2 separate regions of the Homo sapiens genome follow, and region 2 is linked to region 1. A link means that fine-mapping ties the variant in region 1 to the expression of a gene that starts in the linked region. Tissue or cell type: cerebellum. Region 1 holds a variant in brackets; the other region holds the start of a gene. All regions are shown on one strand. Distances are between the middles of the regions.

Region 1 (8,184 bases):
TTATGATGTTAATCTAAGGCCATTGACCGTCTTGCTTTATTTCCCTTCCTTGCTTTTATTTTCTTCCTAAATGGCAATTGGAATACATAGGTAGTTGTGGTCATATGACAGCATTCACAAGGTGGGAGCTACCTTATTCCAACAATTGGAAAGTGGAGAAGAATTTTAATTTCTTCCACAAATGAATTTAAATGGGAGCAACAGTTTTCTGAGAAACCCATTAGCTATATTTTTGGTATAATAAAAATAAGCTGCAGTGTCTCTTCACTATCCTCCAAACCACTACTTAAAAGAGCAACATGGAACTTCTATTTCTAGTTTGATTACTGTAAACATGGAAATTATGTATAATTTTAGACAATTTAGTTAATATGACTATTTAAATGTATATAAAATTATCCCTTTTGGCTGATGGCTGAATTTTTAGAAAAGATTTCCTTAAAAGTTGAAAGCTTGGTGGTACTAGCAGAGGTCTCTCTGGATATTTTGAAGTCGTAATGGAGTGTTATGAGTTATCTTTGGGATAATCCCCTAAGGGTTTTATAATCTTAGATAAACACTGTGATGATGTATTTTCTTCACAAAAGAACAAAGGAAACATAAACATAATGAATATTTTTTGTTAATCCAATGCCTATTCCTGTAAAAATGGATTCCTTTCCTGTAAAATCGATAGAATATAGGCTCTAATATAGCAAGCTCATTTCATACGTATTTCCAATCTATTAAGGGAGAGGCTTGTGTCTTTTTTCCCAAGCAAAGCCAAATAGCATTCAATGAGAGTTCACTTTGGTGATGTTTAATGAAAATCTAACTCAGATAGAGGCCTCACTGGAATACTCCATGAACAGAAATGTAATCTGGGCAAAACCCTGCAGGCTTTATCCTGGGAAATGTAATAAAAAAAAATCAGAATATTGTCTCTATTGCTGAATCAGTAGCCTGGAAGTCACTGCAGAAGTTTTACCTGTGGGAGGCTATGGGAACCCTCTTGTGTCATGTGCTCTCAAATGTGAATGAGCGGGCCAAGAACTAAGAATATTCAAAAGATTTTAAATGTCCAAATAGGCAGTTCTGGAAATACCTCAACATTGTTTGGATATTACATTTGACATGAAATAAAAAGGCATATGAAATACTTTGACCAAATTCTGTTCCAAGTTCTCTTTCTGACCAGAAATTTTCATCTGATCATTGTTAAAAGTCTGATCCATGCCAGGGAAGTCAGGCATTCCACATTTTCCAGATCCAAAGAATGGAGGTTAAAGATATTCCTGAGCATGCTCCTTGAAGGAATCTTGTGTCACTCAACTAGCCTGTCCCTACATGTTACTCCTCAAATTGTCACTACTGCCATCAACATTCAGAATCATGTTTGAAAAGTGTATGCTCTTCTACATATCTCTTATATTCTGCATTGAAAATGACTTTTAGAAATTCATAATTCATAGTAACAGAAAATGTACTAACCAGGAAGATCTTTTGCCAAATTAATACTTCTGTTAGTCTAAATTCTTTTAGTATTAATCAACAGAAACCCAATTCAAATTAGCTCTCAAGATAAAATACAGAATTTATTGAGAAGATATTAGGGTATATAAAGTAATTTAGGATATGTTTGGAAATAAAACTGATTGAAAGGTAGGGCCATAACAATTAGAAACAAGGACTTGACCATTTTTTCTATCCTGCTGGTTTCATTCCCTTTTACTGCAGACCAGCTTCCTTTACATGGAGAAAAATGCGCTTATATTTCAAGAGCCTAAAAGTTATTTTATAACTATTATAAGTTGACTCATGCCTTTTCTGGTACCAAGTTTGGAAATACTGGTGGGCTGATATCAATTCCAAACTAGGGCTAGGAAGCAGGAGATTTGTGTTTTTTGGTTTAATAATATGACTGCTCCCATTTGTTTTACAAGAGTCCAATGGGGTGGAGATATATGCACTCCCTGGAAAAGGGGAGGCAAACACATATCTGCATGTGTCAGTATTCACCAACACCAATGATTAGAAATTAAGGGAATCACAGTGAACATTTTCTTCATAATTCTTGTATTTTATGTGTCTGCAAATATTAAAGAAATTTTACTTCACAATCAGGGCAACAGATAGATGGCAGCTCAATTACTTTGAACATCCAGGCATTTGTCTGTGGAATGGTCATAGGTGACAATGGCAACTCAACATTGATGCTGAATTTCAGTATACTGCTCAGCTCACTAAAGAAAACTGATGCCCAGTAGGAAGGGCAAAGTAGACTATCTGGAGTGGTGGCAATTGAGGGTGGTTCCTCTTAAAATGGGAATTAAAATCAGTGAGGCCTGTGACATCTATTTCTTCATCAAAATTTTCTGCAGAACATTCATTTTAGCTAGCACAGTAGCTATTAGCATCTTTTTAAGTGGATTTTTTCTTACACACCTAGATGCCCCCTTAATGATATGTCAAAGGAAGAGATGTAATAGCAAAATGACTTAAATACATGAATTTGTTCTTGACCTTTCTATGTTTCTGACTGCAGTAATCATTATCTAACTGACTGGGGCTTTTGATAACTGCATTACTTCTGGTTATCAGCATAGTCATAAAAAAATTAAAAATTCTCGTGAATTCTAGGACTTTCAGAAGTTGGCACCATATTTACAGCCCCCATTATGAATATTAATGGCTGGAGAACAGCAAATGCCATTTCCTCTAGGTTATTACCATTAGTACCCAATCATTAGTAGTCCCTGTCACTTGTGGCAATGATGGTCATTTTCAAGATAATATTAAGTTGTATACCAAATGAGAGAAGAAAGCTCATTACTACTACTTTTAGATTTGGTCTTTCTCTTACCTTTTCCAAAAAACATATTTGATTAATTCCTGACAAACTTCTTACATATAGAAATGCATGTTTTGAAACAGGCCCAGAGATCCGAATGTGTACTACTTCCTTTGTATCTTAATTTACAAATGTTTTATGGGTAAAGTCTAGAATTTAAAGGCATCTCTAAAGGATTAATAATTTTGTCTTTCTTAGACTGATCTGGAATACCTTGAGAAGAGCATTACTTCCATTTATCAGCATAGTCACCAAAAAGTCGAGAAAAATCTATCATGATACATAAATGATGATGCCTCAAACAATTTTAGAAATCTATAGCTACAAATACACAAAACCCCATAGTGGTTTGTGTATTTGTGTGTGTGCATTTGTGCCTGTATATGTGTGTGTCTCTGGTGGGTGGCTTTAGTAGACAGTGGCAATAAAATGCAGAGATAAATACCAGAATAACATTGCTTTTCCAAAACTTTTCCACATTAAGATTTTTTCTTTAATCTATGAATGTATTTAATAAAGTTGGTGTTAGCAATGTATTGTAGAAGAGTTTATATTTTCAAATGAAAGGAAGTTATTTCTTGCAAATGGAACAATCCCAACATTATTGAATTTAGAATTTTCGTGACCTTTTTGGCCTTGAAGGAGTAGCCTAGGAGAAGGAGCTGTGAAGTAGACATGGTAAATTTTCCCCCAGTGAGATCAGGAAACAATAAAGTTGACAATAGGATCTGACAGGATGAGGGTGAGGTCAGTGTGGCAAATGTGTGCAAGGGCAGGGTGGTTCCTGTCCTCACTTAAAATTTCATATTTTGTTTCTCATGGGTGTTTACATTAAATTTTAATTTTTACAATATTGTAACAAATAGTATTTATCTCCAAGTTTTGGGATAATGACTTAAAATTTGCATCTGAGTTACTTGCTTTGCCCTTGTCCCAGTTGTTCGTTGTTTCCAACTTGCAAGTTCAAATGTTACTATGGTAACAGTGATGGCTACAATTGGAATTCAAGCAAAGAAATCTGAAGCAAGTCCTATTCCAAATATGGAGTGGCAGGGGCAATGATGGAAGAATCCAAAGACATCCAAGCAGATCTCATGAGCTGGAGTCATGCAGAGTGGGAATGGAACAGCACCTGTGTGATCATGATTGTCTAGGAAAATTGTTTGTAAGTTTTTCTTCCAGGTGACATGCAGCCAAGTCAGTGTGCTAATTTTGTTGAGAATTTGTGCATCTATATTCATGAGAGATGTTGATCTACAATTTTTTTTCTTGTAATACCCTTGTCAGGATTTAGTTTCAGGGTTCTCCTGGTCTCATCAAATGACTTGCCAATTGTTTCCTCCACTTCTTCTTTTATGAAAGAGTTTATGTAAGATAGTTATTATTTCTACTTTATGTATTTGATAGAATTTACTGCAGAACCCAACCATGAATGACATTTTCTTTGTGGGAAGATTTTGAATTGCACACTCAATTTCTTAAATAAATATGCTGCAATTCTAATTTTCTGTTTCCTCTTCTGTCGGCAGCTGGCAGCTTGTGTTTTTTAAGCAAATTTGTCTATTTTATCAAAGATGTTGAAGTTATTTTCATGAAGCTATTGATACTATTTCTTTCTCATCTTTCAATATATTTAGAATCTGCAGTGAGGCCCTCCCCCTTTCACTATGGATATTGGTAATTTATGTTTTCCCTCTTTTTGTCTTTATTGGTATTTCTGTCAATGTACCAATTTTGTTAATTTTGAAAAACAAGACAATCATTGGTTTCACTACTTTTCCTATTACTTTCTGTTTTCTTCCTTTTCTCAGAGAAAAAAAGGCTGGAGTGCAGTGATGCGATATAGCTCACTGTGACATCAAACTGCTAGCCTCAAGAGACCCTCCTAAGGCTAGGCATGGTGGCTCACACCTGTAATCCTAGCACTTTGGGAGGCCCAGGCAGATGGATTACCTGAGGTCAGGAGTTTGAGACCAGCCTGGCAAACATGGTGAAACTCCATCTCTACAAAAATTAGCCAGGCATGGTGGCGGGCACCTGTAATCCCAGCTACTAGGGAGGCTGAGGCAGGAGAAT[C/T]GCTTGAACCCCGGGGGTCAGAGGTTGCAGTAAGCCAAGATCGCGCCACTTCACTCCAGCCTGTGCGAAACAGCAAAATTCCATCACTCACACACACACACACACAAAAGAGAGAAAGAGAGATCCTCCTGCCTCAACCTCGTGAACAGCTAGGACTACAGGTGCATGCCATCAAATCCAGCTAATTATTTTTATTTTTATTTTTGTAGAGACAGTGCCTCACTATGTTGCCTAAGTTGGCCTCAAACTTCTGAGCTTAAGCAATCCTCCCACCTCAACCTTCAAAAATGCTGGGATTACACGTGTGAGCTACCTTTTCTAGACTCCTTTTTGTTTCCTATTTTATTGATTTCTGCTATTCTGTTTTTATTTCTTTTATTCTATGTATTTTGAGTTTAGTTTTCTCTTTTTCTAGCTTCTCTGAAAGCTCAGATCATTGATTCTAAGCCTTTCTTTTCTAACACACTTGAAAATATATAAAAATATGAAGTTATAAATTTCTTCCTGTATATTACTTAAGTTGCATTTCATGAACTTGACTAGTTTGTGTTTTTATTGCCATTCAGTTTGTACTATTCTTCTTTGATCCATTGCTTGACTATAATCGTGTTGCTTAATTTCCAACTATCCAAAGGTAACATTTTTGATTTCCAAAATAATTATTTTTTGGTCTTGGAGCATACTCTGTAAAATTTCAACCCTTTGAGATTTATGAAGTCATTAAAAATTATTCAGCATGTAAGTTACCATGGTGAGTTCCCCATGTGTACTTGAAAGAAATGTGTAACCTACAGTTGTTGGTTGAGTATTCTGTAAATATCAATTAAATCAAGTCACTTGATAATGTTTTTAGATCTTCTTTATTCTTAACATTGTTTCTACATGTTCTGCCAGTTATTAGGAGAAGAGTGTTAAATTCTTCACCTGTGATTGTGAGTTTTTATTTTTTAATTATACTTTAAGTTATAGGGTACATGTGCACAACATGCAAGTTTGTTACATAGGTATACATGTGCCATGTTGGTTTGCTACACCCATTAGCTCGTCATTTACATTAGATATTTCTCCCAATGCCCACCCTGCCCCCCACCCCATGACAGGCCCCTGTGTGTGATGTTCCCCACCCTGTGTCCAAGTGTTCTCATTGTTCAATTCCCACCTATGAGTGACAATATGCGGTGTTTGGTTTTCTGTCCTGGTGATAGTTTGCTCAGATTGATGGTTTCCAGCTGCATCCATGTCCCTGCAAAGGACATGAACTCATCCTTTTTTATGGCTGCATAGTCTTCCATGGGGTATATGTGCCACATTTTCTTAATCCAGTCTATCACTGATGGACATTTGGGTTGGTTCCAAGTTTTTGCTATTGTAAATAGTGCTGCAATAAACATACATGTGTCTTTATAGTAGCATGATTTATAATCCTTTGGGTATATGCCCAGTAATGGGATCGCTGGGTCAAATGGTATTTCTAGTTCTAGATCCTTGAGGAGTAGCCACACTGTCTTCCACAATGGTTGAACTAGTTTATACTCCCACTAACAGTGTAAAAGTGTTCCTTTTTCTCCACATCCTCTCCAGCATGTTTGTTGTGAATTTTTTATTTATTTTCAGTTCTATCATTTGTTAATCTCATGTACTTTAAAGCTCTGTTATTACATGCACAATGGATAGCTGCTTGATGAACTGACGCTCATTATTATAAAATGTCTCATTTAGTCTCTAGTTACTCTGTCTGATATTAATATAGTCAGTCTACATGTCTTATGCTTAAGGTTTGCATGATATATTTTTTCATTCTTTACTTTCAACCTGTATTTATATTTAAAAAGCATCTTTTTAAAACAACATAGCATTAAATCTTGCATTTTATCCAGTGTTAATATGTTTGCTTTTTAATTGGAGAGTTTATTCCATTTATATGTAATGTAATTATTTATAACATGATTGTCTCTATTGCAATTTTATTCATACCCTCCATTTTCATTCCTATGTTCCCCATTTTCTGTTTTCCTTTGAAATCCTTTGTTCCTCATTTTCTGTTTTCTTTTGACTTGATTAAATATTTTTCATATTCCATTTTATATCCTTATTTGAATTTTTAGCTACAACAGTTTCAGGAGTATTTCTTCTAAGGATGACAATATACTGCCTTTTCTTATCATGGTCTACCTTCAATTAGTATTATACTACTTAAGTTACAATATAAAAAACCTCCAATTATGCAATCCTCATTCTTTTGCCATGACATAGATGGATCAGCACAAGACACAGGACATATATTTGAGAATTCATATGGTGGAAAACCTCTATGAATATAATCAAATTTGAAAATCTCTCAAAAAGATCTTGATGTCTACTCTGTAGAAAATACTCCAAATTGGATACAAATATAATGAGAGTAATAAACATGAAAAGATCTCAGCCAGATTTCAAATCTAAATGTGCACTAGAGAACTCATGCTGCAGGGAAATTATGTGAATTCAGTGAATGCAAGAAAGTCTTCACTGATCTTTCACTTGTTAAAAACACACATGGCATCACACACTGAACACATACCCTATCAAAGTAAGGAATAGAGGGAATCCTTTATGTGTTCCTTGTATTTTAGGAATCATGAAAAATTTCACACTGGAGAAGAATTCTATGAATAGACATGTAAGCAAGCCTTTGTTCATTCTTCATTTATTGATGTACATGTAAGAACTCACAGTGGGCTGGGCACGGTGGCTCATGCCTGTAATTCCAGCACTTTGGGAGGCCAAGGCGGGTAGATCACCTGAGGTTAGGAGTTCAAGACCAGCCTTACCAATATGGTGAAACCCCATCTCTACTAAAAATACAAAAATTAGCCAGGTGTGGTGACGTGCACCTGTAATCCCAGCTACTCAGGAGGCTGAGACAGGAGAATTGCTTGAACCCAGGAGGTAGAGGTTGTAGTGAGCCAGGATCATGCCACTGCACTCCAGCCTGGGTGACAGAGCGAGACTCCGTCTCACAAAAAAAAAAAAAAAAAAAAATGAACTCACAGTAGACAGTGGAGATAAGCCTTATGAGTATAAGAAATGTGAAAAAGCTTTCAATTTTCTTTAATCTTTTAGAAAACATGTGAAAACTCTCACTGAAGAGAAATCTTATTAACATAAAAATGTAGAAAAACCTTGAGTTGCCCCTAATCCTTTAGGGCATATGTGATAACTCATATTGTAATTTACCCTATGGATATAAAAGAATGTGAGATAGGCTTGATTTCTTCCAGATCTCTTGCTGTACATGT
Region 2 (8,184 bases), 590 kb before region 1:
TGAATATGGGCAGGGTGTGAGGAGGGGTGTGGGGATTTGGTGGAATAGTGCATATAAGGTTAGAGGGTGTGGTCTGGCTGAGATGTTCCCCACTAAGTTCTTTGCCCACAGGACTCTGGGAAAACCTCGCCACTGCTATGCAATCTCTGATGCATTCTTTCCCAACTGCTTTTTTCAGGGCTGCATTCCAGTATGGTATCAAAATGTCTGAAGGGCGGAAAACCAGGCGCTTCAAGGAAACCAATGACAAAGCAGAGCTTGATCGCCAGTGGAAGAAGATTAGTGCAGTAAGTAGGATGGCCCCTTGGGTGGGAGGGTTTCAGCTGGGAGAAGACATTAGCCTGCAGATTCAGGAACAGGCAAGGGGCTGGAGAGCCATGGAAATGAGAGGTCAGCCTTGGGCCTCAGGTGAGCTTAGATGGGCAGCTTGGTGATAGACTATCCTGTTGTTTTTGCAGATCATTGAGAAGAGGAAGAAGATGGAAGCTGATGGGTGAGCGGCATTATTCTTCCTCTGTGGGACTGGTGGGAATTGCTTAGTGTATTGATCTTATACTGACCCATTTCTCCTTCCATTGCAGGGTTGAAGTCAAAAGACCAAAATACTAATCACTAGTTACAACCAGAGATGCTCCACAAGGATATGCTCCCCACTGTTTTCTTTCTACAATTTCCAAAGGTTGCAAGATGTTTTTTTGTGGATGAATATAAAATTTTATTGTGTAATTACTTGGTTCCATTAAAATTGGTTAACTTGCTATTTTCTTTGTTGAGCATGTCCCCTCCAGTGCCCTTGAAGCACCAAGAACACTAATTCCACTGGTTGTGTAAAATCACATGCAGAAAGTCATCAGTCCTTTCCTGAGCTGTGGTTCTAGATTCCTAGACAGTAAGGATGCTCTCTAGCCAGTGTGCCCAGTAGAGAAGAGAATAATGATCCTCACTGATGGGCAAGAGGTGGATAGAGGAATGTAAGTATGATTGGTCTCAAATGTCAGACTCATTCCGGCCCATCTTCAGGCCTAGTCCCTGGGGAAAGATTTCCTGGGGATTGCTGTCAGCCTGATGGGCTGCTAATCTGATCTCCAGGCTATGAAGGACTGGGCTCTGGATGAAGGCATCTAATGAAAATCACTTATGGGTGGGAACCAAAACCTTTTATGAGTTTATGTACTATGAGCTTTATTAATGTTGAGTACAAATCACTGTCTCCTTGGCTAAAGGTGTAACCTTAGGGAAGTGCTTTGGGTTTAGAGCTGATATAGTGTGGCCCTGCAGGTACAGGAATTCCTATCCTAGACCAGAAGGGTTTGGTGCCCTTCATCACCCTGAAACATTTGCCAAGGCCCAGAATAGGTCTGTTGACCTTTGAATCACACCATTCCCTTCCCTTTTCTTCCCTTCTGCTCATTACCAGCACTTTGGCCTGGTGCTCATCATTAGGTGTCACTACTGCTTCCTGGCTGGATGCCACGCTGCCACTGTCTACCCTGAGCCCAAGATTTGTGGCCTCACCAGATCCAAGAAAGCTAGAAAGTCACCTTAGCCATTACCTTGTCTTTGATTATATTCACCTTGGTAGGACAGGTTTTTGTGAGGAAGCCAGTATTGTGCATGGCATGTAAGAGGCTGAAATTGGGCCTTGCTGCAATAGCACCTAGAATGGCTAATTTCAGACAAATGACACCATGGTTCTATGGATGTAGGTAGGCAGTCCCAATTATTAAAAATGGTCACAGAGACATGGCACAGGTGAAGACATCTGGAGAGTCACTAAAAGCAAGACCTGGAGATTGTGGGTTTGAAATTCAGTTTCTGAGGCCAGGCTCGATGGCTCATGCCCACAGTCTCAGTGCTTTGGGAGGCCAAAGCAGGAGAGTCTCTTGAGGCCAGGAGTTCATGAGTCTATAGCTATGCAGGAGGATCGAACCGAAGAGTTCAAGGCTGTAGTGAGCTATGATCACACCACTGCATTCTGAGCCTGGGTGACAGAGCAAGACCTTGATTTAAAAAAAGAAATTCAGGGGCTGGGCGCCGTGGCTCACGCCTATAATCCTAGCACTTTGGGAGGCTGAGGTGGGAAGACACGTCAAGAGTTCAAGGCCAGCCTGGGCAACATACTGAGTCCTCGTTTCTACAAAATATACAAAAATTGGCCAGGTGCGGTGGCTCACGCCTGTAGTCCCAGCACTTTGGGAGGCCAAGGCGGGCGGATCACGAGGTCAGGAGTTTGAGACCAGCCTGGCCAACATGGTGAAACCCTGTTTCTACTAAAGATACAAAAAATTAGCTGGGCGTGGTGGCATGCGCCTCTAGTCCCATCTACTCGGTAGGCTGAGGCAGGAAAATCTCTTGAACCCGGGAGACGGAGGTTGCAGTGAGCCGAGATCGCACCATTGCACTCCAGCCAGGGCGAGACTCCGTCTCAATAAATAAATAAAAATTAGCCAGGCGTGGTGCCGCGTGCCTGTAGTTCCAGCTACTCGGAGGATCGCTTGAGCCGAGCGGTGATCGTGCCACTGCACTCCAGCCTGCGCGACAGCGCAAGACCCTGTCTCAAAACAAAGCAAAACAAAAAAGAAAAAAAAATTCTTGGTAACTGAGCACTGCTTGTCCAGCCCATTGAGTTTCTGTAGACAAATTGTAGGAACTGGCACAGCAAACTGGCCACAAAGACGTTAGGGGCGTGGACACCAGCTGCTTGAGCTGCCTGCTGTCCCAGACTCCCGTATGTCATCGCGCAGCGTGGGATTTTGCGGCTTCCTGACAGCCCAGGCTGTCGCTTGACTTGATCTTGGGTTTCACCAAGCCACGAAGGACTAGCGTCCCTCTCTCCTATCCCAAGGGCATTAAGCCTGTCTGGATGAAGTAGGAGAGGAAAGATTTACACGCAGTTCTCAACTTTACGTGACGTGACTAGGGAGGGAATTGACGGTCGCACCGTCTACCTAGCCCAAACGGGGTCACAGCAGGACAAGGAAGTAGCCGATCTCCCAGATGCGGTCTCTTCGCTCCGCTCCACCCGCACCAGCAGCGGCCCACCCACCTCTCCTGTAAGAGGAAGAACGTCCCGGAGACACTTCCGGCCCCGCCCCCCGAGGCGGAAGCGGAGTGCCAGGCTACTCCTCCCGCAGTGTGGGTGGTTCCGAGGCTGACTACCCTGCGGCGGCGCGGCTCGCAGTCCTTCTCAGCATGGACCGCACTTGTGAGGAGAGGCCCGCTGAGGATGGGAGCGACGAGGAGGACCCAGACTCCATGGAAGCCCCAACCCGGATCCGGGACACTCCGGAAGACATCGTGCTGGAAGCTCCGGCTAGTGGGCTGGCGTTCCATCCGGCCCGTGACCTACTGGCTGCAGGGGACGTGGACGGGGACGTGTTCGTGTGAGAGCGGGGCAGGGCCGGGGCGCCGGGTCTGGAAGCTTCCCGGGGGTGGACCTGGGAACAGGAGAGATGAGAGAAAGTTGCAGGGAGACAAATTTTGCAAGATTCTTTGGGTCCAATTTATTCAGTAACATTCGGCTCTTCTATCACACCAATCTGTTGAAAGAACTGGAATGTCGTGACAGAGCCCAGATACCGTAGTAGGCCAAAAAGCCCTTTAAGGCCTTGTTATTTCCCACCGATTATTATTTATTTACTTACCTATTTATTTTTGAGACGGAGTCTCGCTCTGTCGCCGAGGCTGGAGTGCAGTGGCGCGATCTGGGCTCACTGCAACCTCCCCCTTCCGGGTTCAAGCAGTTCTCTTCCTCAGCCTCCCGAGTAGCTGGGATTATAAGCGCCCGCCACCACGCCCGGCTAATTTTTTTTGTATTTGTAGTAGAGACGGGGTTTCACCATCTTGGCCAGGCTGGTCTTGAACTCCTGACCTCGTGATCCACCTGCCTTCCTCCCAGAGTGCTGGGATTACAGGCGTAAACCACCGTGCCCGGACTCCTACCGGATTATTATATTGTGCCCGAGACAGGCTCAGCAGGCCCCTTTAAGTGATTTTTCAAACCACAAATCTTGGCTCACGCCTGTAATACCCGCACTTTGGGAGGCCGAGGTGGGCGGGTCACCTGAGGTTGGAGCTCGAGACCAGCCTGTTCAACATGGTGAAACCCCGTCTCTACTAAAAATACAAAAATTAGCCCGGTGTGGTGGCGCGGGCCTGTAATCCCAGCTACACGGGAGGCTGAGGCAGAAGAATCACTTGGATTCGGGCGGTGGAGGTTGCAGTGAGCCAAGATCGTGCCACTGCACTCCAGCTTGGACAATAGAGTGAGACACTCCCTTGATTAAAACCCTTCAATGGTCTGCTTTTAGGATTTAGTACAAATTTCTCAATCCTGCCTTCAACGCCCTGACCATCTGTGCTCATTCATCCATACCTTTTAAAAATACGTCTTGGGCCGGGCGTGGTGGCTCATGCCTGTAATCCCAGCACTTTGGGAGACCAAGGTGGGGTATCACCTGAGGTCAGGAGTTGGAGACCAGCCTGGCCAACATGGTGAAATCCTGTCTCTACTAAAAATAGAAAAATTAGCTGGGTGTGGTGGCGGGCACCTGTAATCCCAGCTTCTCGGGAGGCTGAGGCAGGAGAATCGCTTGAACCTGGGAGGTGGAGGTGGCAGTGAGCCGAGATCGTGCCATTGCACTCCAGCCTGGGCAACAAGAGCAAAACTCCATCTCAAAAAAAAATCTCGAAACCTCAGCCCATTTGCATGTGCTATTCTGTCCGGAAAACTCCTTTCCCCTCACTTTTACCTACTATCTCTGAGTTTCCAGGATCTCTTCCCTCTTCCTCTCTCCCCAGACTAAAATTGGTTACCTGTTAGATGCTGCCATGGCACCAGGTGCCATGGTACCTTTCCCTTAATAATGAATGGTTGGTAACCATATGTCCATTTGTGTAATTATTTGAATGCTGTCTCCTTCACTAATGTTTTTCAAACGTCTTTGACCTTGCCTCACAGAGAAATACCTTTTACATTATATATGATGCTCTGTGATACAATTGCTGATTTTATTCTATTATTGTGTACATGTACACAAAATGCTGATCGTAGCTTACTAGTCCGTTATATGACTAGAATGTGAAAAAACACTGTTCTGGAGTGTAATCTGTCATCGGTTTTGTTCTCTATTTTATCTCCAACCTCTAGTCTAGGGTAGATGCTCAACACATGTTTGATTTTGAACAAAAGATACAGGTTAGAGGCAGTGGAAAAGTTGAAGATGTTATGCTTATCAGATTTACTTAATGAATTTAAACCTCAACCCCTCATTAGCTGTAATGGCCTTGAGCGTGTTAACTTCTGTATTTTCATCTTTGAAAGGGGGAATTATACCTACCCTTGCAGAGGGGACAAGTTTGCAGTACAGCACCTAAGCAGCTCTTCAACAAATGTAGGTTCCCTTCTACTACTATCCATATTTATGGTGCCAGGCACTTGGGAGTTGCCCTAGACATCCACCTTTCTTCACATTCCACACAACTTTGTTGCTTCCCTTGTCTTAAAAAAGGTTCTGGAGGAAAATTCTTGGTTCTCCCCTTCCCCACCCTCAGCCATGACTATTGTGAAAAGGTTCCTTTTCCGAGGATTAAATTCAAACTTCTGCTTGGCTCATGTGGTCTCATGCCCACCCCAGCCCATCTTTCTAGATTCAGTCATGCTACTCTCCTGCTACAAGGAACCCTCCTCATTCCTTATCTCTGCTGCCTCCAGTATCTGGCCCTTGCTCTCTGCCAGGCAAATTCTACTCTTGTATGATCCAACCCACATGTCACCACCTTAGCTTTCCAGGGCTCTCTTCTCCCTTCCCAAGTATTCATTCAATTTGTGAATGTTTATTAAGCTACTTTTTCACGTTCAGCACTGGGATAGAGAAAATGAGCAGGCTCAGTTCTGCCTACCTGGAACTCACTGGCAATTAAGCATGTATTCATTCTGCCCTTTTTGAGGATCTGCTCTGAGGCAGGCACTTGGGGGTATTCCATAAACAGTACTCACCTCAAAGTTGTTTACAGGCTGGTGCCTCTCCCCCACCTCCATTTTGATCTTGCCTCTTTTTCAGCACGTACTCTCAATGTACTGTAATTAATTGTGGCTTTCTCTAGCTCCTGCAGACCTGAAGTGCAAGAGCCTGCTCTACCTTACTGATTTTTAGATTTCTAACTTCTGGGGCTGGTCTTTTGTCATTGATGTAACAAATATCTCCTCCACAGTGGTCCAGACCCAATCTTTGTCCAGGCTGGGGCTTTCAAAGATGATAAAGAGGGGTTGGGTGGGATCACAAAGAAATCTTGCGCAAATATACCTTGAACTAACATATATTGAAAAAAGCAGGACCTAACATTTCAAACTCACTGAAAATGGAGAAATGAGATGGTAAACTTTTTGGGCTTAGAGGTGTAGAAGCAGGAACTCTTAGGTAGGTGGGAAGGCTGCTCTGTCTAGTTGGTCTCTGCACTCAATGCAACCCAGGCTGGGTCTGGAGTCATTTACCCTCCTTGCCCTCTCCCCAGCTTTTCCTACTCTTGCCAAGAGGGAGAAACCAAGGAGCTCTGGTCATCAGGTCACCATCTCAAGGCCTGCCGAGCTGTGGCCTTCTCTGAAGATGGGCAGAGTGAGTACTGGGGAAGACAACCAGCAATGTGGTGGAAGGGAGCAGTGAGCAGCACCATGACCTGGGCACCTTTTCCCCAGAGCTCATTACTGTCTCCAAGGACAAAGCCATCCATGTTCTAGATGTGGAGCAGGGCCAACTGGAAAGACGTGTTTCCAAGGCTCATGGGTAAGGAGAGCAGCCAATTCTGTGTATGTGCATGGAGGTGAAGGGTAAGGACCAGGAGGTCCCCACTGGGACAGAGATGCTCCAAGAAGTTCTACATCTGTGTCTCTAGTGCCCCCATCAATAGTCTTCTGCTGGTGGATGAGAATGTTCTGGCCACTGGGGATGACACAGGTGGTATCTGTCTCTGGGACCAGCGGAAGGAGGGCCCCTTAATGGATATGAGGCAACATGAAGAGTACATCGCAGACATGGCTCTGGATCCAGCCAAAAAGCTGCTGCTGACAGCCAGGTACAACTTCAAAGCTGCCTTGCCTCCCCTCCCCTCCCTGTGTGAAATGTCTTCCTCAAATAGACCTTGCGTCTAAGCCTACTGCTCTACTCTCTACAGCGGGGATGGCTGCCTTGGCATCTTCAACATTAAGAGGCGTCGGTTTGAGCTGCTCTCAGAACCTCAGTCTGGGGACCTGACCTCTGTCACTCTCATGAAAGTACAGCTGGTTATGGTGGGATGGAGGGGTGTGTGCTGGGGGCTTAGTCTGAGGCAGCTTCCACATTGTTTTCTCTATTTCCCTGCAGTGGGGGAAGAAGGTAGCCTGTGGCTCCAGTGAAGGTACCATCTACCTCTTCAATTGGAATGGCTTTGGGGCCACAAGTGACCGCTTTGCCCTGAGAGCTGAATCTATCGACTGCATGGTTCCAGTCACCGAGAGTCTGCTGTGTACTGGCTCCACTGATGGAGTCATCAGGTGAGGGAAGCCTGGACAGCCCTTAGGTCACAGGAAGGGCAGACCCAGCTAGCCAGTACTCAACACTGTTCTTTCCCTGCCCAGGGCTGTGAACATCCTACCGAACCGAGTGGTGGGCAGTGTGGGCCAGCACACTGGGGAGCCTGTGGAGGAGCTGGCCCTCTCCCACTGTGGCCGCTTCCTGGCCAGTAGTGGCCATGACCAGCGCCTCAAGTTTTGGGACATGGCCCAGCTGCGAGCTGTGGTGGTGGATGACTACCGTCGGCGCAAAAAAAAGGGAGGACCACTGCGGGCTCTGAGCAGCAAGACTTGGAGCACCGATGACTTCTTCGCAGGACTGAGGGAAGAGGGAGAAGACTCCATGGCTCAGGAAGAAAAGGAGGAGACTGGGGATGACAGTGACTGAAGGAATGAATTGAATCTTGAGACGGGTCCTCACCAGGCAAGAGTCTTGCTTATTGGGCTGCATCCCCAGAGAGGATATGAATTATTTTTTGAAAAGACAGGGTTTTGCCATCGTCCAGGCTGGAGTGCGCTGGCTTGATCTTGGCTCACTGCAGCCTCAATGTCCCCAGGCTCAGATTGTCCTTCCACCTTAGCCTCTGGAGCAGCTGGGACTACAGGTGTGCACTACCACACCAGGCCAATTTTTGTTT

The links. PIP is the estimated chance that this variant, and not a neighbour inherited with it, causes the effect.
Region 2: WDR55 starts here. The variant in region 1 is fine-mapped to the expression of WDR55 in cerebellum (GTEx, PIP above 0.99).

What each region holds. Positions count from the first base shown.
Region 1 is chr5:141,251,849-141,260,032 of GRCh38, forward strand. It overlaps the pseudogene LOC100419552. Among named protein-coding and RNA genes, the nearest start is that of PCDHB15, 11 kb to the left of the region's middle. The variant C/T (reference allele first, on the strand shown) is at 4,907.
Region 2 is chr5:140,661,721-140,669,904 of GRCh38, forward strand. WDR55 (WD repeat domain 55) reads left to right here and starts at 3,184. Exons shown (of 7, transcript NM_017706.5): 1 at 3,184-3,383; 2 at 6,514-6,614; 3 at 6,695-6,782; 4 at 6,892-7,071; 5 at 7,171-7,270; 6 at 7,359-7,528; 7 at 7,613-8,184. The coding sequence starts at 3,193. The coding sequence ends at 7,934. IK (IK cytokine) reads left to right here. Exons shown (of 20, transcript NM_006083.4): 18 at 179-287; 19 at 459-493; 20 at 582-760. The coding sequence ends at 609. LOC124901088 (a long non-coding RNA gene) reads right to left here and starts at 3,717. Exons shown (of 2, transcript XR_007058968.1): 1 at 3,645-3,717; 2 at 691-3,437. RefSeq lists enhancers at 2,595-3,261, 2,679-2,838, 3,189-3,318.